2 separate regions of the Homo sapiens genome follow, and region 1 is linked to region 2. The links come from fine-mapping of genetic effects on gene expression. A gene starts in region 2. The other region holds a variant in brackets. All regions are shown on one strand. Distances are between the middles of the regions. Region 1 holds the start of TRL-AAG2-1 (tRNA-Leu (anticodon AAG) 2-1). Region 2 holds the start of TRIM7 (tripartite motif containing 7).

Region 1 (11,370 bases), 20 kb after region 2:
AATGGAAAAATGAGCATTGTTTCCTCGGAGTAGCTTAACCACCATCCCACGCTGTTTTACAGCAGTGTAGGAAATGTCTCTGCTGGTGACACAAAAATAAACCTGTGCATCAGCTCTGAGTAGATTATCGCGAATTTTACAGCAGGAAACCGCATCACTATTTTTACTACTAAATAAACCAGTGCAATTAAAGTGCGCAGGGCGAGAGTAGGTCTGAGGCGAGAAAAGAGGAGCGCGCCCGCCCAGCTCGAGCCTCAGGCTTGCCCTGTGCTGGAGGCGGCCCGGGGGCAATCCCGGGAGAATGCTGCGAGGGCTGTGAGCCAGGACCCCGACTCTGCACCGCGGGAGCGCGCGCGCGTGGGTCCCAGCCTCCGAGCTGTGCAACAACCCCGTGGCTAGAGTCTCCACGAGAAGACAGAGTTCCTGGTCATCGGTCGTTTCCGCCTTACACTTTCCTACATTTCCTGAAGATTTTGCAAATGGGTATGCACTGTTTATTATCTTTTCATAAAACGGTAAGAGCGGCTTCTGGGGGCTCCTCACCCAGCCGGTCCGGCGTTCCTTCCCTCTCAGCACTGCGCTCTCTCCCGAGCCCTCCGGCTCTACCAACCTCTGTGTCCTGCCCCTGGGCCTCAAGATTTGCGCCTTTCTTGGACTCGCTTGGGAAGGGGCGCCCAGGCTGCAGAACGGATGGACGCTCCTGCCTGCTACTCGAGTGGATCGAGCAGGGAGGCGCTCATTCGGATTCCAGGAGACCAGAGGACACAGGACATAGGGAGCGTTTACCCTGTGTGGAGCTACCTGCGGCTGAGAATTAGTGGCAGACGCGGAGATGGGCAGCGGGGACAAGTTGGGCTTGGGAGACTATAAGACCTTGAGAATGGGTTCAAGCTGCCAGACGGAAATCCGCCTTTTCGGTGAATCGAGCCATGAAGAACACAATCATGAAAAGATTCAGCGAGCAACTAGACAGCCGGCTCGTTGGTCTAGGGGTATGATTCTCGCTTTGGGTGCGAGAGGTCCCGGGTTCAAATCCCGGACGAGCCCACTTTTTCATTTTTTTTTTTCCATTTCAACTGAAGTTCTTCTTGTTCAAATCCTGGATGAGCCAGCTTTTTAAATTTCAACTAAATTTTGTGTTACCTTGACAGTTTTGATCCCGAAAGATGTCCAGCGGAGGCATCACCAAGATTTCCGGGAGTGCTGGGGATTGGAAAGAATCGTGGATAGGAGACTAAGCGAGCCGTCCCGGAAGCAACAGTTGCTGTGAAGACTTTGGGCACAGACCTGCACGTGAGAGTATGCTCTTGAGGGTTGTGGGGGCTCTCCTTTTACAGCTAGGGATCACTTGTCGAACGTACCCGGAGAGTAGCTGCTAGCAGACAATATTATGGCGACAGAGGTAGGTGTGGGTTTCCGTAGTGTAGTGGTCATCACGTTCGCCTAACACGCGAAAGGTCCCCGGTTCGAAACCGGGCGGAAACATGCCACAGTGTTTTTTTTTTTTTTCCCCCCCCTTTCTTTTGAGATGGGGTTTCGCTCTTGTTGCCCAGGCTGGAGTGCAATGGAGTGATCTCGGCTCACAGCAACCTCCGCCTCCCAGGTTCAAGCCATTCTCCTGCCTCAGGCTCCGGAGTAGCTGGGATTACAGGCATGCGCCACCACGCCCGGCTAATTTTGTATTTTTAGTAGAGACGGAGTTTCTCCATGTTGGTCAGGCTGGTCTCGAACTCCGGACCTCAGGTGATCCGCCCACCTCGGCCTCCCAAAGCGCTGGGATTACAGGCGTGAGCCACCGCGCGCGGCCCCGAAGCGGTTATTATCTCATTACACGCTCTTATTACACTGGAGACTAACCTAGAAGATCCCACTAGTATGTCCACCTGGTGGTCACAGCGGCACAAAGAGAAGAGGGCATCTACGCTTTTGCTTTCCATTCCCAACCACCCGCACCTGTGAACTCAATCCAGTTTTACTTGCTGTGGACAAGCTCGGCACAGAGCTCATCCACTGGACAGCGGCACGCTGCCAAATGGAACCCCGCATCTCGAGTATGTGTGGGGCCCATTACTCCTTTTGTAACCCATAGGGGACAAAAGTGACAAAACTACCACAAACTGGCAGCGGTGGGATTCGAACCCACGCCCCCGAAGAGACTGGAGCCTTAATCCAGCGCCTTAGACCGCTCGGCCACGCTACCTCTTTGCCGCTGGGTATTTACATATTTTCCTTCAGTTATGAAGCGTGCGAAGGGGCTCTGGGCCAACAGGGAGTTGGGGCGAATCCACAGGGCAGGACCATGGCAGGATCCGCTCCGCCAAAGCCACTGGCTGGGAAACGGCTCCACCAGTGCCCTGACACAGGATTCTCAATGCCCAGGCCTCAGGATCTGCTTTAGGAAGGCCAGTCATAAAGCCACCCTCTTTGGGGAATGCACTCCAGAGCAGGGGAAGACTTCGACACTCTCACTTCAAAAAATCAAAAACAAATACAATGAAAAATAAAATAAAATAAAAACCTAAAGAAAAACAAGCAAAAAACCCCAGCCTGGGCAACATGGCGAAACCCTGTCTCTACAAAAGATGTAAACATTAGCCGGGCGTGATGGTGTGTGACCATAGTCCTAGCTACTCAGGAAGCTGAGCCCAGGAGGTCGAGGCTGCAGTGAGCCGAGATCGCCCCACTGCACTCCAGCCTAGGTGACAGAGCAAGACCCTGTACCAAAACCAATCAAACAAAAACAAAACAAAACAAACAAAAAGCCCCAACAACAACAAAGCAGACAACAAACTGAGAGTATGTATTGACTTTATGAGTCATGAGCAGAAACGTTCTTAGCAACTTCATTCATAATAACTCACTTATGGAAACAGTCCAAATGCCCACCATCTTCACATTGGATAAATAAAATTGTGTACAGTCTTATTTTATTTTATTTTTTTATTATATATATAGTCTTATATGGGATTATTATAACACTGATAATGAGCTTACTGCTGCAAACAGCATGGACGGATTTCACCGTCATCAATGTTGAGCAAATGCAGCCAGACACCAACGATCTGCATTCTATTGATTCCACATATGACATTCACACACGAGCCAAACTAATCTATGGTGACAGAAGTTAAAAATCCTGTCACTTGGGAGAAGGAGGTGCAGGTACTGACTTGCAAGGGACATGAGGAATTTTTTGTAATGCTGGAAATGTTCCTTTTCGATCTGGATGATAGGTACACACGTGTATTCAATTCCATGCGCACTTAAGATCTCTGTACATATGAAATCTTTACACAGTACAGATATATCTGTATGAAAATTGTTTCTTAAAACATGACTTTCTTAGTTGGAAAGGCTATTGTTTTAGATTTTACTGGTGTGTAACAAATTACCACACACTTAGTGTCTTAAGACAGCACAGATTTATTATCTCGCTTTTTGTGGAGTACAAGTTAGCAAGATCTTCTACTGATACCGCAGCAGGTGACATCACAATGTTGGCCATTGCTGCAGCCTCATCTGAGGCAGGGGGGTTCTCTTCCAGCCTCCCTGGTTGTTGACAAAATGCATTTCTTTGTGGCTGTGGGACTGAAATCTCCTGTTTGCTTGTTGGCTGTCAGCTGAGGGCCACTCTTGGCAACCAGAGGCCCCTTTCCTTGAGGCCAGCGGTGCACGGTGTTTCTGGAACTCCACCTTCTTTTAAAGGGCTCACCTGATTAAGTCAGGCCCACCCAGGATAATCTCCCTTTTGATTTATCAAAATCAACTGACCAGGAACCTCAATCACAGCTGCGCAATCCTTTGTTCCGTAAAATGTGGCATGGTTGTGGGAGTGACATGCCATCACGTTCACTCATAGGCAGGTGGTCTACAGGGCGTGTGCGCCGGGTGGGAATCTTAGGGGCCACCTTCGAGTTCTCTCTATGACAGTTTCAGGCCAGAGAACCAAATACGGTAGAGCCTCCCAGCAGAAACGCCTTTCCAAGTTCCTTACCTGTCTTTGTATTTGTAACTTGTTGAAAGAAGCCCCTGGGAGGGGATGAGGGGTCCTGTGCTTCCTCATTGCTGTGTGGCCACGCTGGCTTCCTGTGTCCACTTGGCATCCTCAGGCTAGGTGGGCATCCCGTTGTGTTGCAGAGTGATCGGGAGACAGAGGCCGCCTCTACCAGCGCTCAGCCCCCGAGGCGCTCCTGGAGCACGTGCCAGGCTCTGTTCGGTCCCCTCCAGCCTGTTCTTTCAGTTCCGGAGGATTTCCTATTTCTACGTTTAGACACTAAACCTTTTTCATTAACATGTGCTCACTGTGGAATAATTAGACACACCTAAGAAGAAAAAGTAGAGTAAATGAGCTTAAAGAACATAAAAAGCGTCCTCAACCATGCCACACATATTGCTATTATTTTGTTTTAGAGCTTTTAAGACTATTTTCATGGATACTTTAACTTATTTGTCTTATATTTATATATATATATTTTTGAGGCAGGGGTTGGGGGTGGTTTACGCAGTTTAGCCCAACCTGGGCTCAACCTCCTGTGCTCGATCCATCCTCCCGCCTCAGCCTCCTGAGTAGCTGGGATTACAGGCGTGTGCCACCCTACTCAGCTCGACAAGCTATGTTATTTACTTATTTACATTTACATATTTATTTATTTTTCAAACGGGGTCTTGCTCTGTCACCCAGGTTGGACTGTAGTGGCACAAACACAGCTCACTGCAGTCTCGACCTCCTGGGCTCCAGCGATTCTCCCACCTCAGGCTCCGGAGCAGCTAGAACCACGGGTGCGTACCACCACGCCTGGCTAATTTTGGTATTTTTTGTAGAGACGAGTTTCGCCATATTGCCCAGGTTGATCTCGAGCTCCTCTTGCCTAGGCCTCACAAACTGCTGGGATTGCAGGAGTGAGCCACCGCGCCTGGCCGAGCTCTTTTTTTGTTGTTTTTTGGTTTTTTTGTTTTGTTTTGTTTTGTTTTTGTTTTTGTTTTTGAGACGGAGTCTCGCTCTGTTGATCAGGCTGGAGTGCAGTGGTGCGATCTCAGCTCACTGCAAGCTCCGCCTCCC[G/A]GGTTCACGCCATTCTCCTGCCTCAGCCTCCCGAGTAGCTGGGACTAGAGGCGCCCGCCACCACGCCCGGCTCATTTTTTTGTGTTTTTAGTAGAGACGGGGTTTCACCGTGTTAGCCAGGATCGTCTCGATCTTCTGGCGTCATGATCCACCCGCCTCAGCCTCCCAAAGTGCTGGGATTACAGGCGTGAGCCACCGCGCCCGGCCCCGAGCTATGTTTTAATAAGAATACTTTGCATTGTGTTTTGTAACTTGCCTTTTAAAAAGTACTTAACTTCGCTGGAAAGATTCCATAGTAAAAAGAAAAAGAAAAAAATACTCAACAAAGGTACTGTGATGCCACTCATTCCTACATTTTATTTTTCGCCTTTATGAAATTGTAAACAAAGAGCCACAGGCCGCGCTGGGGTAGGGGAGGGGTCGCCCTTCAAAACGCCACCAGGGGACCCCATGGCCGTGTTTTTTGTTAACCGTTCACAGCTCCCTCTAGGAACCTTCAGATGCTCTATGATGAGTGCAGTTTTCCGCGACTCTTTCAAATTCTTGGGTCGCCGCCGCACACGTGACCGCTCGGGGGCGCTCAGGACTCCACCGCGGCGCGGCTCTGGTCCTGGCGGGGGCGCGATGCAGGCTCGGCGCTGTGCAGATCGCGCCGCCCAGGGTCCCTCGCCCCGGGATCTCGGCGCGCAGGTCTTGCAGCGCCAGACGCAGCGGAGCCCGGGCCCAGGGCTGCAGGAGGAGAGGGGACCTGGGCCCGCCGGAACTCCCTGTATACCACAACCAGACCGCAGCAGGATTGGTATCAGCGGGAAGAAGAAAACAGCCCACAACACCATTTTCATTGTTCCAGTGTTTGGAAGAACTCTAGATATCTAAGCAGCCACTGTTGTTGAACATTTAGACTCAGATTTTTTTTTTCCCCCCATTGCAAGATTATCCTTGTGGCTCAATCTCTGTATAACATCATAATGATTATATAGAGAAATAAATATCTAGTGTAGTTAATGGGCCAAAATTCTATATATTTTTTTCTTTTTTTGAGATGGAGTCTCGCTCTGTCGCCAGGCTGGAGTGCAATGGCGTGATCTCCGCTCACTGCAAGCTCCGCCTCCCAGGTTCAAGCGATTCTCCTGCCTCAGCCTCCCGAGGAGCTGGGACTACAGGCGCCCGCCACCGCGCCTGTGGTGTGTTTTTACGCCTGGTGTTTTTCACGCCTGGCTAATTTTTGTATTTTTAGTAGAGACGGGGTTTCACCGTGTTGGTCAGGCTGGTCTCGATCTCCTGACCTCGTGATCCGCCCGCCTCGGCCTCCCAAAGTGCTGGGATTACAGGCGTGAGCCCCCGCGCCCGGCCGGGATTATCGTGTTCTTGCGGCTGAGTGGTGCTCTGCTGCGCATCCACCTCGGTGCCTCCGCCCACTCCTGCACCGACGGCCGCTGCCTTTGCTCGCAGATCTGGGCTATTGTGAACAGCGCTGCGGTAAACGTGGCGGCACAGACATCTCTCGGGCAAACCGAGGATGCGATACGGATACTTCCTCCGTCATTTCCACTCCCCTTTCTCCAGGCCCTGAAGCTCCGTCTCCACGCCCGAACTCGTGGCCTCCCATTCCCCAGGCAGCTTCTCCCGAATGTCCCCTCTCAGAAACCGGTGCCAGCGCGTCCCCGCTGTGCCACCCCCAAGCCCACTGCCAACCCCGCACAGTTCCGCGTCCGCCGTCTCCTCTCCCTGCGGTCGCTGCCACACCCTCTCGTCCGGTCTCCCATGCCCCCTTATGCTACCGCGTCGGGCATGAAAACTTCCTTTTCTTTCTTTTCTTCTTTTTGTTCAAGACGTTTCCCTCTGTCACCTAGGCCGGAGCGCAGTGCTGCGATCACGGCTCACTGCAGCCTCCACCTCCTAGGCTCAAATGAGTCTCTTACCTCAGCCTCCCAAGTAGCTGGGACTACAGGCATATGCCACCACACCTGGCTGATTTTTATTCTTCTATGTTTCAGTAGAAATGGGGTCTCCGTACGTTGTACAGGCTGGTCTGCAACTGCTGGGTTCCGGCGATCCTCCTGCCTCAGCGTTCCAAGTCTGGTAGTTCCTTTTCTTATGTGCTCAGCCCCATTAGCCAAGCTTAAAGGGACACATGGACAAAGCTCAGGATTATAATCAGAAATAGAACAGGGCTGGGTGCGTCGGCTCACACCTGAAGTCCCAGAACTTTTGGGAGGGAGAGGTGGGTGGATTGATTGAGTCCAGGTGTTTGAGACCAGCCTGGGCAACATAATGAGACCTTGTTTCTATTTATAAAAACGACAACAACAGGAGAGACACTTGCCACGGGTGACAGGAGACCAGGAGAAAACCAGAAGGAGAATGTGGAGTCCCAGCATCCGCTGTCCTGAGAGCCTGAGGGCCTCCTCCAGGAACTGCACCTTCGCAGGGACCCGGCACTTCGCACTCTCTCCCCGGACACCGCGGGCGGATGTGTGCACAGACTTAAGGCCCCCAAACCCTCTTTTAGTGGATGCTGTGGATGATTTCTCATCTTAGTGCACACTCTCATAAAACACCCGCTCACTAAGATGAAGACGTTCTTAGTTATGCTCGTAGCACAGTCATGCCCACCTCATGCAAGTCACATCTGCAGACTTAGTCCCTGATTGCACGTCTACCTATGCTGCCACTTGACCTAATTATAGGCCACAGTCAGAAGGAACCTCTTGCTGTTGGCGCCATCTCCTGCCTGTAGGCGGAGGTGAAGGCCTGGCCCCGAGAAGGCCGAAAGATTCCCTTTCCTAGGAGGCGGGGATAACAGGGGATCTGTGAATCTGGGTGGGAACAATAGCAGAACTCATGTTTTTCCTAATCACGAACTGAAAGAGGGTTTTCCATTCAGAAAGGAGGCTGCAATCCACAGTAGAATTAACACGACCTTTATTGCTAATGGAAATCACAGATGCGGCTGAGGCGGGAGGATCGCAGGAGCCCCAGAGGTGGAGGCTGCAGCGAGCCAAGGTTGTGCCACTGCACTCCAGCCTGGGCAGCAGAGGCAGACTCTGTCTCATACACCAGCAAAACACAAAGAAATCACAGGTCCTTTCATATCACATGTCAAATCATAGTTCTTGTAGGCACTTTGAAATATCACTTATGCTCATTAGTACTTAAAAATTATGGTAATTGTCCTGGCAGTGTGACTCACAGCTGTAATTCCAGCTATTTGGGAGGCCAAGGTATTTGAATCGCTTGAGGCCAGGAGTTTGAGACCAGCAAGGGCAACATAGGGAGACCCCATCTCTACAAAAAATGCAAAATATTAGCCAGAAATGGTGGCATGCACCTGTAGCCCCAAGTACTTGAGAGGCTGAGGTGGGAGGATCCCTTCAGCCCAGGAGGTCATGGCTGCAGTGAGCTAGGTTCTTCCCACTGCTCTCCAGCCTTAGCAACAGAGCAAGACCCTGTCTCAAAAAACCAAAACCAAAAACAAACAGAAAGAAAGCATTATTCTGAGAAGGAGTCCATAACTTTCACCAGACTGGTAGTCCATGGCCACCCATCTTTAAAAGGGCTCAGACTCGGCTGGGCGTGGTGGCTCACACCTGTAATCTCAGCACTTTGGGAGGCTGAGGCAGGTGGATCACTGGAGGTTAGGAGTTCAAGACCAGCCTGACCAACATGGTGAAACCCCGTCTCTACTAAAAATACAAAAAATTAGCCAGGCATGGTGATGGGTGCCTGTAATCCCAGCTACTCAGGAGGCTGAGGCAGGAGAATCACTTGAACCTGGGAGACAGAGGTTGCAGTGAGCTGAGATGATGCCACTGCACTCCAGCCTGGGCAAAAAGAGTGAAACCCTGTCTCAAAAAAAAAAAAAAAAAAGCCTCAGAGTCTTGCAAATAGTACAAAAGAGTTGTGGGTCAAAGGTGGAACATGAAGTCCCCCTTTGATAAATGAGTGAGTGACTTTCGGAGAACCAAAAGCCCCACAGATCCAAGAGTAGTCAAGTAGGGCTGCTAGAAGAGCCCCATGCTTGTGAGTCAGGAGGGAGGTGCTGGTGGCCTCATCCAGGGCACTGTCAGGGGACAGGTTGGTGACAGCTGAGGTGCCACCTGGGACTGGCCAGGGCCAGAGGTGATTGAACTTTTGCAACGGATGTCCCCAGCTGAGAGTGAGGACTGTGCAGGGTTGGCTTGTTGAATCAATGAAGGATTATTACCAATCATATATTTTCTTTCCATTCATTCATTCATTTATTTATGTGCCTAACTCCTGTCCCACATCCTGTCTAGGTGCTAAGGGGACAAAGGTTCCTGGCCTCAGCACACTCTCAGATTCACAGGGAGACAGAACTGAGACTGAGAGCTGGTTCCTCTCCCTCTCTCGTGGGGATACAGTGAGAAGGCAGCTGGGCAGAAATCAGGAAGAGGATCCTTACCAAGAACTGCAGTGTGCTGCACCCTGATCTAGACTTCCAGCCTGCGAAACTGTGAGAAATCAATGTCATTGTTTGAGCAGCCTGGCATATGGTATTGTGTTACAGCAACCCGAACCAAGACAAAGGTTCTCAGCTGGGGAGACAGAAACTCATCTGGAGCCTGCACTCCCCCTGGGGAGGGGAAGATGCCTGTCGACCTGGACAGAGGGCCTGGACAGAGGCAGCCCTGGGCTGAGTTGGCCCTTGCTTGCCGCTTCTCCTTGGGAGCACTGGGACAGGATCCCAGAAGGTTCCAGAATGCATGTCAAGCAAGCAGCAGTCCCTGTGGAGTTTGGGGTAACATGCACAGAGGAAGAAATGGCGGAAAAGCAGCATCAGGATGGCTTTAGGGCAGGGAGCTGCTGGAAGGTGGCAGACAGAGTGAGCAGGGGCAGGAGATGGGCCAGCGAGGCACCCGCTGACATGGAAGTGCCGTCATGCGCTGCACAGCAACCTTCCAGGCAAGGAGGGACACGTGCATGACAGTGGTCCCATGACTATGATGGAGCTGAAGAATTCCTATGGCCTAGGGATGTCATAGCCGTGGTACTGTCGTAGCACAGACGTCACTCGTGGGAGCGATGGGCTATGCCACCCAGCCTAGGGGTAAATGAGGTGCACCTTCCAAGAGCCACCTAATCACCATTTCCCAGAATGCATCCTTGTTGTTAAGGGGCCCGTGACTGTATGTCTTGGGAAGCAACACGTGACTGTTGTCCCGCCCTGCACTGACTGCCCAGCGAGCGCTCAGAATGCATTAGATATGGGGTGGACAGAGGAGGAGGACAGCACCAGCACCCAGACAGCAACTTCCCTTGGAATCACCATTTCCTGAACCAGGGGATCTCCCCAGCCACCCACACCAAAGCCTAAACTCTCATACCTCCTCTCTCTAAAGCAGGGGTCTGCAAGCTTTCTCTGCAAGGGCCACGTACAGAATCTTTTCAGTTTTGTCGGAAGTACCCACGTCTGCCCTTTTGGTGCCAAAGCCAGTAAAGGTGACACATAATGAGAGGGAGGCGCCGTGTGCCAATGGGACATGTGTGCCAATGGGACTTGACTCACAGACACCAACATTTGAATTTCATCTAATTTTTACATGTCATGAAATATTATTCTTTTTATTTTTTTAACCAGTAAAAAATGTTCTTAGCTCGCTGGGCTGGAGAGAAATAGGTTGCAGGCTGGATTTGGCCTGAGGGTAGTTTGCTGACCAAGGGAAAGGGAAAAAACCAAACTTGCTCTAACCCACCTCTCTCCCTCCAGTCCCATGCAGTCCCACTTTCCTTATTTTTTTATTTTTTATTTTTATTTTATTTTATTTTTTTGAGACAGGGTCTTGCTCTGTCGTCCAGGCTGGAGTGCAGTGGCACGATCTCAGCTCACTGCAATTCTCCTGCCTCAGCCTCCCAAGTAGCTGGGACTACAGGCGCCCGCCACCATGCCCGGCTAATTTTTTGTATTTTTAGTAGAGATGGGGTTTCACCATGTTGGCCGGGATGGTCTTGAACTCCTGACCTCAGGTGATCCGCCCACCTCAGCCTCCCAAAGTGCTGGGATTACAGGCATGAGACACCGTGCCCGGCTTTTATTTTTTATTTTTGGGTAAAAACAAAATTATCTCCACCATTAATTTTTCTTCCTTTTGACTTGGTTTTCTATTACACAGGTAACTCTGTTCTCTCCACTGAAACGCCGCCATTACCATGTGCTCAATTCCCAAACACATTCGAGTCTCTTTATTGATTCAGTTCCACTCCATTGATCTTCTTGGTTCTTCCTGCACCAGGACCAAAGTTATTACAGTTAATAATACATGGAGGCTTATCTTTGTGCAGATTTCTTT
Region 2 (11,370 bases):
CAAAGTGCTGGGATTACAGGCGTGAGCCACCGCGCCCGGCTTTTTTTTTTTTTTGAGACGGAATCTCGCTCTGTCCGCCAGGCTGGAGTGCAGTGGCGCCATCTCAGCTCACTACAACCTCTGCCTCCTGGGTTCAAGTGATTCTCCTGCCTCAGACTCCCGAGTAGCTGCGATTATAGGCGTCCACCACAAGGCCCGTTTGTATTTTTTAATTTTTTTTTTTTAGACGGAATCTTGCTCTGTCGCCCAGGCTGGAGTGCAGTGACGCAATCGCGTCTCACTGCAACCTCCGCCTCCCGAGTAGCCGGGATTACAGGCGCGTGCCACCACGCCCGGCTAATGTTTGTATTTTTAGTAGAGACAGGGTTTCACCATATTGGTCAGGCTAATCTCGAACTCCTGACCTCAGGCGATCCACCCGCCTCGGCCTCCCAAAGTGCTGAGATTACAGGCGTGAGCCACTGGGCCCGGCCGAAAGATGTTTTTTTTAAATTTAATTTAATTTTTGAGACGGAGTCTCTCTCTGTCGCCCAGGCTGGAGTGCAGTGGTGCGATCTTGGCTCACTGCAAGTTCCGCCTCCCGGGTTCACGCCATTCTCCTGCCTCAGCCTCCTGAGTAGCTGGGACTATAGGCGCCCGCCACCCCCGGCTAATTTTTTGTATTTTTTTTTCAGTAGAAACGGGGTTTCACCGTGTTAGCCAGGATGGTCTCGATCTCATGACCTCGTGATCCGCCCGCCTCGGCCTCCCAAAGTGCTGGGATTACAGGCGTGAGCCACCGCGCCAGGTCGAAAGATGTTTTTTAAAGCTCATTTGTGATGTAGCCTCTGTGGAAAATGGTATGACACTTCCGCAAAAACAGAAATGCCGTATGACCTAGTAATTTCACTTTGTGATGTATACTCTAAAAAAATAGAAAGCCTAAACTCAAACAGATATCTGTACACTCATGTTCATAGCTGCATTATCCACGGTAGCCAAAAGGAGGAAGGAACCAAGTGTCCATTGGCAGATGAATGGATAATGTGGTATATATGTGCAATGGAATGCTAATCAGCTTTAAAAGGAAGGAAATTTTGACACATGCTACAATAAGGATGAATCTTGAAGACATTAAGTGAAATAAGACAATTTAAAAAGGAAATATAAGGATGAATCTTGAAGACATTAAGTGAAATAAGACAATTTAAAAAGGAAATATTGCACGATTCATCTTATATGAGGTATCTAGAGGAGTCAAATTCAAAGACACAGAAAGTAGAATGGTGGTTGCCAGCGTCTGTGGGCAGAGGGGAATGGAGAGTTAATGCTGAATGGGTTCAGAGTTTCATCTGGGAAACAGGAAAAAGGACTGGAGACTGATGCACAACCATTTAAATGTATTTAATGCTACAGAACTGTACAGTTAAAAAGTGTTAAATTTTGTTGGGCATATTTTACCACAGCTTTAAATCCTAATTGTATCGCAAGATAATGGGTAGATAATGAACAGTGGAGCGCCCGCAAGAGTATTACACACACAGAAATGCAAGACTTCAGAGCAGATTATTTTCCTAAGAGCTGGTCTACTTATAATATATTTTTAGGTATGGCTAGTAGTCGTAGATTTAGGACTAAAACGACCAGTTGCCGCCCAACGTGGGGCTCGAACCCACGACCCTGAGATTAAGAGTCTCATGCTCTACCGACTGAGCTAGCCGGGCGCCCGATGACCGTATCTCAACAATTTTTCATTCTAGATCAGAGTCGGAGTGTATTCAACTGCGGGTTTGAACTTGGATTTATTTGGAGTGTGATAAAACTACTAAAGTGCCTCGGCTCCTGGGAAATTCAAACTCTGCCGTCAGTGCCTGACCGTCCCTCCCACTTACGTCCGTTTCCTGCCCCTTCTACCCTACCAGCGACCAAGCCATTTTCTACCCGCGATGAAGCTCACGGCACGGAGATGGAGAAACGTGCACCCTGACGCCACTGGAGCTCTCACCGTGTGGATTTTTTTTTTTTTTTTTTTTTTGACAGAGAAGACTCTCAAAAAATGGGCCTACCTTTCACCACGAACTGCGGCTCTGTCGCCCAGGCTGGAGTGTCGTGGCGCAATCTCGGTTCACTGCAACCTCTGCCTCCTGGATTCAAGCACTTCTCCTGCCTCAGCCTCCTGAGTAGCTGGGATTACAGGCGTGTGCCACCACTCCCGGCTAATTTTTGTATTTTTAGTAGAGACGGGGCTTCTCCATGTTAGTCAGGCTGGCCTCAAACTCCTGACCTCGTGATCCACCCGCCTCGGCCTCCCAAAGTGCTGGGATTACAGACGTGAGCTACCTCACCCGGTCAAGTACCGTGTGGATTTTAAAACAGGAGGGAAAGACAATGGGGCCCAGAGGAGGGCAGGGGCCGCCGCGGTCTTTTTCTACTCCGCAGACTCCACCCTCTGGGTTTTTTCTTGGAGCTCTTCAAACATGCTGGATTTCAAAATTTGAAAGGAAAATCGAAAACAATAATTGAATGTGCAAAACTACACTGGAGATGCCGGGGATCGAACCCGGGGCCTCATACATGCAAAGCATGCGCTCTACCACTGAGCTACATCCCCACCTACTCTCAGCAGCTCTCCCAGATGGTCCCTATTGGTCGCTTAACTCAGGACACCGGGAGTGGAAGGCAACCGGTACGCGCTGGGTCTCAGCCGCTGCAAAAACCCGGCATCGCAGGGCAAGAGTTGTTCCAGCGTCCTCCGCTGACTCCAAACCAGCGGGTCTTGACCAAGGGATTCCAAGAGAGAGGATTAGGCCCGGCTAAGCACCTGGGAGCAGCTGTGGAAAAAGGAGAGACAATCATCAGGCACGATGCCAAAAATGAACTGTGACCTGAAAAAGAGAAGAAAGGAAAATTGTGCAGGATGCTACGTTTTGTTTTTTAAAAGTGGGGGTTGAGGCAATAAAATACGGAATATTTGATTAACGTAATCCAGAATTGTAAAGTTGATTGCTCGGGAGGAAGAAAGGACTGGGACACAGGCGATGGGCCTACTTTCCACCGTGAACTGCGGCTCCTCTTTTGAATTTCGAACCAAGTTTAATCCAAGAAAACCTTACTGAGCTTGCCAAGAACTGCTCTAAAAACAGGATTCAGCCGTGAACAAACCTAGTACAGTCCATCTGAAAGCTGACATTCCAGAGGAGATAGAGTGCGGGCACAGAGCCGGCCCTGAGAAGGGAGCGCGCTAAGAGACGACTTTACACAGTGTGCGCGTTCGGGGCGGGCTTCGTGGGCAGAGACGTTTGAAACAAGACCTGAATGAGGTGGGAGGGAGCATGCAGGTGGTGGGAGAAAAGAGGTCCACGCAAGGGGAACAGCCAGCGCAGAGGCCACGGGGTTCAGGAACAGCAAGAAGATCGGGGACACTGGGTCCTGGAAGGCCCTGAGAAGGGAAGTCGGGAAGGAGGGAGCATCCGGGGGCAGATGAGGTGAGGCGAGGTCTTCGCCTTTGGGTGAGAATTGCTGAAGTTCCCGGTGACATTGGCAAGGGCGGTTTCTGAGGAGGGTGCGGGCGAAAGCTTGATCCAAGTGGCCTCCAGAGTGAGCGAGGAGAGAGGGTGTGGAAGCGGATAACACAGGCAGCTCTGCTGCGGGGCTGTGGAGACAGCTGGGGGACAAGAGAGCGCTGAGGTTTGTGTGTGTGTGTGTGTGTGTGTGTGTGTGTGCGGTGGGGGGGGAATAATACTGAATACAATGGGAAATTATAAATGTGTTATCTGTTCAAATACTAAGTAAAGAGTAAAGAAGCCGGAGGACAGTCGCAGAAAAGGTAATGGAATGGATACAAGGCCACGCTTGCGCGTGAGGGGACAGGACCAGGTTCCAGTCTCTAAATTTAACTCAGCACAGGGCCGGGGCGAACCTGCGCTGGCGGAACCTGACACCGTGGCCCGAGCGCCAGGCCCTTGCCCCGGCGATGCTGGGTCGGCCTCGGTCGGAAACCGGGAGTGGCGCTGGCAGCATTTGTGCGCCCACCTGTCGCGGCCCGTTTCCCGCGGCTGACTGGGTCAGGCTGGGGCGGCCTGGAGAGTCTGAGGGACGGGGGCGAGGGGGAGAGGCCGCTGGCCAGGGCGGGGGCTGGTGGAGCGCAGATCCGGGGCGCAGGGCGCTGTCCCGCACTTGAATGGCCCGTAGTCAACGTGCGCCTCCCCTCCCGGCTCCCAGCCGGGCGCGCCCCGGGCTCGAGTCTCTGCCTGCCCAGTGGCAGCCCCGCCCTTCCTCTCCCAGTGGGCCCTCGGCGCCCAGCTCCGCGTCCTGTGAGGTCCAGTGGCCGCCCAGGCGCGACCAGATCTGGGTGCGCGGAGAGCGCGCATGGCGGCTGTGGGACCGCGGACCGGCCCCGGAACCGGCGCCGAGGCTCTAGCGCTGGCGGCAGAGCTGCAGGGCGAGGCGACGTGCTCCATCTGCCTAGAGCTCTTTCGTGAGCCGGTGTCCGTCGAGTGCGGCCACAGCTTCTGCCGCGCCTGCATAGGGCGCTGCTGGGAGCGCCCGGGCGCGGGGTCTGTTGGGGCCGCCACCCGCGCGCCCCCCTTCCCACTGCCCTGTCCGCAGTGCCGCGAGCCCGCGCGCCCCAGTCAGCTGCGGCCCAACCGGCAGCTGGCGGCAGTGGCCACGCTCCTGCGGCGCTTCAGCCTGCCCGCGGCTGCCCCGGGAGAGCACGGGTCTCAGGCGGCCGCGGCCCGGGCAGCGGCTGCCCGCTGCGGGCAGCATGGCGAACCCTTCAAGCTCTACTGCCAGGACGACGGACGCGCCATCTGCGTGGTGTGCGACCGCGCCCGCGAGCACCGCGAGCACGCCGTGCTGCCGCTGGACGAGGCGGTGCAGGAGGCCAAGGTGAGCGCAGCCCCCACCCACCCCGTGGGTCCCCGGGACCCCCTGACTTGGTCCCGCGCTCCCGCGCACGGGGTGCAGAGAACAGCCTGTCGATCAGGAGGCCCGGGTGAGCCCCTCCCTTCTTTCTCCATTCCAGGAAGCCCAGCGCTGGTTCCCGGGCTGAGCGCGGTTCTCTGTCACCCCCAACATCACCAATACCCCCACCCCACCCCCACTGCGTTTCCCTCTGGGCCAGATACTGGGCCGCCTGCGCGACGTCCCCCACGGACTTGGCGATGTTCTTCCTGTCTGTTCGGAGCCTCTAGCCTGGTCTGCGTCTCCGCAGCTCTCTGCCCGCGGGAAGTCTCCGGCACAGCCACGCAGCCGCTGCCCCCACTCTTATCTCTTTCCCCGAAGCGGGCTCTGCTCAAAGTCCCCACCTCGTGGAACTGAGTGAGAGGACCTCGCCAAGATGTCCAGGGAGGGGGCTCCCGGGTTAAGCCGCGCACCTAGAGCCGTCTGACTGTGCCAACGCTGTCGATTCTGGGGGCCCTTTCTTTGCTATTTTCTCGCTGAGCCTCAGCGAGGGTGTGTGCAGGGGTGAGGGCGGGGCGGGGAGGCTCGGGCGGCAGTCCCCAGTCTCTCCTTGCTGGCCCATCCTGCTCCAACTCTCCCAGCCACGGGGCTTCCTGGTGGGGGGGCGGAGAGTAGAGGAGACGACTAGGGGTAGGGCTGCCGGAGCTTGTGTTTCAGTCTGGCTGGTCCAGCAGATGCTTTTGGGGAAGCAAGATCCCGAGACCTTCAGAGTCACCTCGCAGTGTAACCTGTAGCCTGTAGAGATGACTTCTACCCGGCCTCCCCCTCAGTGAGCAGGGCCTTCCCTTTCTCCTGGCTGGCTCCAGGAAGGCAGAGGTGGGGGTTTCCAGAAGCCCCTCACCCCCACCTTACATTGTTTCCCTTCATCTACAGGAGCTCTTGGAGTCCAGGCTGAGGGTCTTGAAGAAGGAACTGGAGGACTGTGAGGTGTTCCGGTCCACGGAAAAGAAGGAGAGCAAGGAGCTGCTGGTGAGCCAGGCACCCGCAGGCCCCCCGTGGGACATTACAGAGGCCTGAGAACTCAGCACCAGGGCTCGGTGTGTGTGGTGTTGGAGTGTGTGCTATGGAACCGCAGAATCGATTTCAGAAAGATAATAGAGTCCATATTATATAGGGTGTCCACATAATTGTTGTACAAACCAGAGCTTTTTAAAGTGAAAAGCAGTGCTAAAATAATTATTGCAAAACAACTGGCTTAAACTGGAGCTGTCCCAGCGAATCAGGACGCTCAGTCACTCTGATATTACGTAACATACCAGTTAGGGCCTGCGGAAGCATCTTGTAATGGAACACATTACTATTTCTGCAGAGAAACATGGATATTCAATAAGTGGGAATATTAATACAATAAAGAGCCTCATGGCATGTTTTGTCAACAAAACAGTAGTGAAAAAAATTTCATGTTCACAGTGTTTTTATTTGAAATCGAGGCTAACGGAGAAGGGGCTAGAGGGCGTCAGAGCTGCTCCCTGGCTCTGGCAGAGGGAGGAAGTTTAGGGTCTTGGGTTTACAGTAGCCCCTGCTGCACAGCCCAGGGTCTTGGGTACTGGCACCTGCCTCTACCCCAAGTTGGAATGATATTTTATCTTCCTTAGGGTAGAACAGGAAAGTGAAACGAGGGCTCATTTTGGTTAAGATAAGCAAACATGAGGCCTGGCAGGGTGGCTCACGCCTGTAATCCCAGCACTTTGGGAGGCCGAGGTGGGCGGATCACGAGGTCAGGAGATCAAGACCGTCCTGGCAAACACGGTGAAACCCCTGTCTCTACTAAAAATACAAAATAGCCGGGCGTGGTGGCGGGCGCCTGTAGTCCCAGCTACTCCGGAGGCTGAGGCAGGAGAATGGTGTGAACCCGGGAGGCAGAGCTTGCAGTGAGCCGAGATCGCGCCACTGCACTCCAGCCTGGGAGACAGAGCGAGACTCCACCTTAAAAAAAAAAAAAAAGATAAGCAAACATGAATCACCATCGGTCATTTTCTACCTTGCAAATTCAGTTCCTAGCTCAGTAAATAGGTGTTGAAAGAATAAAAGGATTGGCTGGGTGCGGTGGCTTACGCCCGTAATCCCAGCACTTTGGGAGGTCGAGGTGGGCGGATCACCTGAGGTTGGGAATTCCAGACCAGCCTGACCAACATGGAGCAACCCCATCTCTACTTAAAATACAAAATTAGCCTGCCGTGGTGGCACATGCCTGTAATCCCAGCTACTCGGGAGGCTGAGGCAGGAGAATCACTTGAACCCGGGAGGTAGAGGTTGCGGTCAGCCAAGATCATGCCACTGCACTCCAGCCTGGGCAACGAGAGTGAAACTCCATCTCAAAAAAAAAAAAAAAAAAGAATGAAAGGATCTACTAGGACCTGTCAAGGCAGGGAATTGAAGGAAGGTGAACTAGAGGACCCTCCCATCCTCAATGTCAGGAGGGGTGGAGGAGGAGCCTGGAGTTCAGACACCCTAGGGTCCTTTCCAGACCCTCAACTATATCTGTTATGCCTGCACCCAGTGTGCATCCCAGACCTTCCTACCTCATCACTCACTTTCCTCCATGAGGAAGAGCTCACCCTCTAGACCTTCATCCCTCCTCCACTGGAGAAATGACTCCCAATGCAGCTCTTCCCCCACTGGTTGACATCCAGGAACCAGAGGGCCTTCCCTGGCACCGGCGGCAGCTTCACAGTCTCTGACCGGAGTCCCCAGGCCTTGCTTAACACCTTCCACCTCTGTCCTCTCCCAACATCCATCCATCCACCCCCACATTCGTTTTTGTTGTTGTTTTGTTTTGCTTTGCTTTTAGACAGAGTCTCACTTTGTCACAAAGGCTGGAGTCGTTCAAGCGATCCCCCCACTTCAGCCTCCTGAGTAGCTGGGACTACAGGTGTGCACTACTACACCCGGCTAATTTTTAATTTATTTTTTGTAGAGCTGGGGTTGGGGGTAGTCTCCTGTGTTGCCCAGGCTGGTCTGGAACTCGTGGGCTCAAGCAACCTTCTCCCCTGACTTTGCCCCCCTCAGCCTCCCAAAGTGCTGAGATGACAGGTGTGAGCTCTACCTGTTCTTTGCAGCAATAAAATACTTCTGGATTTATGACACTTGTCTCATTTACAATACCCTGCTTAATGAAACATCAGAGGTAGAGCCCAACTATTGCTGCAACACAAAAGGGAGAAGGAATGCTCTTATTTGAAAATGCTCCTACCCCAGGGGACATCTGGCAAAGTCTGGAGATACTATATTTTTGGTTGTCAACAATGGGATAGGGATGCTATTGGCATTTCGTGGTAGAGGCCAGAGGGGCGGCTAAATGTCCTACAAGGCACAGGGCAGCCCCCTACAACCAAGAAGTATCTGGCCCAAAATGTCAACTGTGTTAAGGTTGGGAAACCCTGGCTTAGAGTATTTTGGCAAATACTGTTTCACTTGTGCTACCTCCTTGTGAGGCAACTGGCCGAGAAGCCTGGCTTAACACTTCCTGGTGATGTGTCTGTCTTTTGTCTCCTCACCTGTAAGACTTGAAGGGAAGTGCACCCTCCCCACTGGGCTGCCGTCAGGGTTGAGGGAGTTAATATCCATAAGGCGCTCCAGGCTACTGCAGCCTGCCTGGAAGCTGAAGGAAAGGTGGGGGCATTGTAGGACACCTTGAACCCAGGTCTCCCAACTTCACAGGACTCCCTTCCTCCGCCCAGGAGTTTTAAGGAAGAGGAACTTCCTGGTGGGACATATTGAGTGCCAAACGTGTGTTCACATAAAAAATCAAGAGATCAGGGCATGAGTCTGCATCTGAAAACTCGAGTAAAAAATCCGGTGTATGCTGTTAATGGAAAGAACAGAATATGACACTTGCATGCCGCATATTCTCACTTCGTTCCTTGGGGGTGTGCTGCTACCTCTGGTCACTGGCATCGGACTTTTCTTCCTTCTTTCTACTTTCCTACATCTCCCAAGTTTTGTATTTTGAGCATGTGTTAGCATTATAACTGCTAAACAGGAAAGATGGCCTTTAAAAAGAAAGTGAAGTGTAAAAGTTTGAGGGTGATGAAATAAATGTGCTTGAGGAAGAAAAAGCAATCTCAGTTTAATCCTATGGTTGCCCCAGGAGGCACTAATTTATCCCTTCTGCTTTTCAAGTGAGGAAGCTGCAGCTTGGCGTAGTTCTGGGGGGAGTATGAAGCTGCCTTGGTTTAGGTGATGGAGCACAGGTCCACAGACATGTGTGGGTGCATCTGTGGCAGGGGAGAAAAGAGCATGTGTCCAGACTACAGCTTGTTCAGAGCTGGGACACTGACAATAGAGCACGCACTGCGTGCGTAGGTGGGTGTGTCTCCGATCCTCCAGCAGTGACAGGGACGAAGCCTTGCCCTGTGGGATGACTCAGGCCACTGGCCAAATGTTATGTCTCCATGTTCAAGTCCCTCTCCAACTTCTCCTCCTGGGACAGAAACAGATGGCAGCGGAGCAGGAGAAGGTGGGGGCAGAGTTCCAGGCACTGAGGGCTTTCCTGGTGGAGCAGGAGGGTCGGCTGCTAGGCCGCCTGGAGGAACTGTCCCGGGAGGTGGCACAGAAGCAGAATGAGAACCTGGCCCAGCTCGGGGTTGAGATCACCCAGCTGTCCAAGCTCAGCAGCCAGATCCAGGAGACAGCTCAAAAGCCTGACCTTGACTTTCTCCAGGTAAGTCTGGCTCAGCCAGGGGCTCGAGTCATTTATCCTAAGGCATCAGGACCAGCAGCTAGAGAACAGTGTCAGTCCTGGGGGGTCTAGGAGAATCACATGATCTGGAGCTGAAGGGGACTGGAGAGAAGTGCCCTGATTTTCCTGGGGTTGGAGGTCTAGAGAGATGTGAAAACTTTCTTGACTATGAGCCACAATAATATATATCGTATTTCAGAATCACAAGCTTGAGACAAAAGTCTCAGAAAATAATACTCACCTTTGCTACACGTATGCACTTTGATGTTTTCTATTCTATTTCGCTAAAAAAAAAGTTATAAACAACTAGATAAACTTCACAATCCATAGATGGGTTAAGAACAGTCATTATGGGGCTGAGTGAGCAGTAGGTGCATAAGGGCTGTGACCTCCCTCAGGTGGTTTCCAGGACACACGCAGCACTGGGTCCCATGGGATAGCTCCAGTGATGATTCTGTAACTAAGAAAGCAGCAAAGATAGAAAGAAAGCACGTGAAGAGTTGTGGCAAAGGGTGAGAGGTCCACTGCGTGGGTGAGACACCCTGCAGCCAGCAGCCACTGGAAGCTGCTGCCCCTGAGGCCCACGCAGGCAGTGAGGCGTGGCACACTTGCTTATGCTTACATCTGGGAGGCACAGCAAGGGGCAAGCTTTGTTTCTCAGAGGTGAATGGAGGTTACCTGATGCTGATTTGGTTTCCTCTATCTTTCCTTCCAGGAATTCAAAAGCACGCTGAGCAGGTGAGTGACCTCACAGCTCCTGGGGCCTCTCTAAGTTGCTTCTTCCCTTTTCACTGAGCCTTGTCTTTATTCCCTGTCCCCTGACCTCTCACCTCCTGATCCCCCGACTTGCTTGCCTGGGGACCTTCCGAGACAAACGCCCACCTGCCTGGCCATGGGTTTTTCTGCATGAGGTCTGGCTCTCCCTTTTCTACCTCTTTCTGCCAAGAGGACCTCGCCATCCTAATTGTCACAGCCTGTGGGAGCAAAATGGTGCACACAGGCCCTTCTCAGAGCCCTTGTCCTGCAGGTGTAGCAATGTGCCTGGCCCCAAGCCAACCACAGTCTCTTCTGAGATGAAGAATAAAGTCTGGAATGTTTCTCTCAAGACCTTTGTCTTAAAAGGGATGCTGAAGAAGTTCAAAGGTAGGGGCCTGGGCGCCAAGCTGGGCCACATAGTGCGGTGGTGGTGGAGGGTTCCTGGTAGCTCAGGGGTCCCTGGGTGTGCTTTCCAGAAGCTGTGTGTGAAAATAGGAGCTGGCTGTGCCATGGCCAGATTGGTGTAGGGGCTGTGGTGGCAAATCTAGTCAGGCCCCCGCAGGGCATGCCGCTTCTCATGGGCACAGATGGGGTAGAGGGGTACTGCTGGGGGACTGGGGTTAGGAAGAGAGCTGTGCAGGGGAGCTCAGCTCAGAGCCACTTGGGTAGAGCTAGAATGCTTGGGTATGGGCCCCCTGCCCCCCGCTCCCCATGCTTGGCCCTGTGCCTGCACGTTCACTCTTGGCCTTAGGAGTCTCTGGGGAATGAATGAGTCAGTTGGGATATAAAGAGCTGGTGACCTTGCCATATAATCTCCCGTGTCGCTCATGCACGCCTTGCTTTGTTTCTCCTCCTCAGAGGACCTTCGGGGAGAGCTGGAGAAAGAGGAGAAAGGTAGGGATGGTGCTGTGATGGCGAGTATGGACTGTCTGCCACACAGAGATCCTACTCCCTGCTCGTGACCATCTCAGGGTTTTGCATATGGTCGG

The links. PIP is the estimated chance that this variant, and not a neighbour inherited with it, causes the effect.
Region 1: its variant is the best candidate, but not a certain one, in a credible set for the expression of TRIM7 in whole blood (INTERVAL, PIP 0.84).

Annotation. Positions count from the first base shown.
Region 1 is chr5:181,178,531-181,189,900 of GRCh38, reverse strand. TRL-AAG2-1 (tRNA-Leu (anticodon AAG) 2-1) reads right to left here and starts at 2,200; the gene lies at 2,119-2,200. It overlaps TRV-AAC2-1 (tRNA-Val (anticodon AAC) 2-1), which reads left to right and starts at 1,413; the gene lies at 1,413-1,485. TRP-TGG3-1 (tRNA-Pro (anticodon TGG) 3-1) reads left to right here and starts at 976; the gene lies at 976-1,047. RefSeq lists enhancers at 1,035-1,244, 4,989-5,489 and silencers at 1,295-1,494, 2,085-2,214, 5,056-5,723, 5,677-5,886. The variant G/A (reference allele first, on the strand shown) is at 5,060.
Region 2 is chr5:181,198,088-181,209,457 of GRCh38, reverse strand. TRIM7 (tripartite motif containing 7) reads left to right here and starts at 4,262. Exons shown (of 7, transcript NM_203293.3): 1 at 4,262-4,869; 2 at 5,818-5,913; 3 at 9,377-9,607; 4 at 10,341-10,363; 5 at 10,653-10,768; 6 at 11,240-11,275. The coding sequence starts at 4,348. It overlaps TRIM7-AS1 (TRIM7 antisense RNA 1), which reads right to left and starts at 9,383. Exons shown (of 2, transcript XR_001743050.3): 1 at 8,442-9,383; 2 at 6,341-6,870. It overlaps TRA-TGC3-1 (tRNA-Ala (anticodon TGC) 3-1), which reads right to left and starts at 2,590; the gene lies at 2,519-2,590. TRK-CTT2-2 (tRNA-Lys (anticodon CTT) 2-2) reads right to left here and starts at 1,703; the gene lies at 1,631-1,703. RefSeq lists enhancers at 1,350-1,439, 1,820-1,879 and silencers at 2,580-2,679, 3,984-4,303, 4,564-4,893, 4,934-5,003, 6,815-7,109.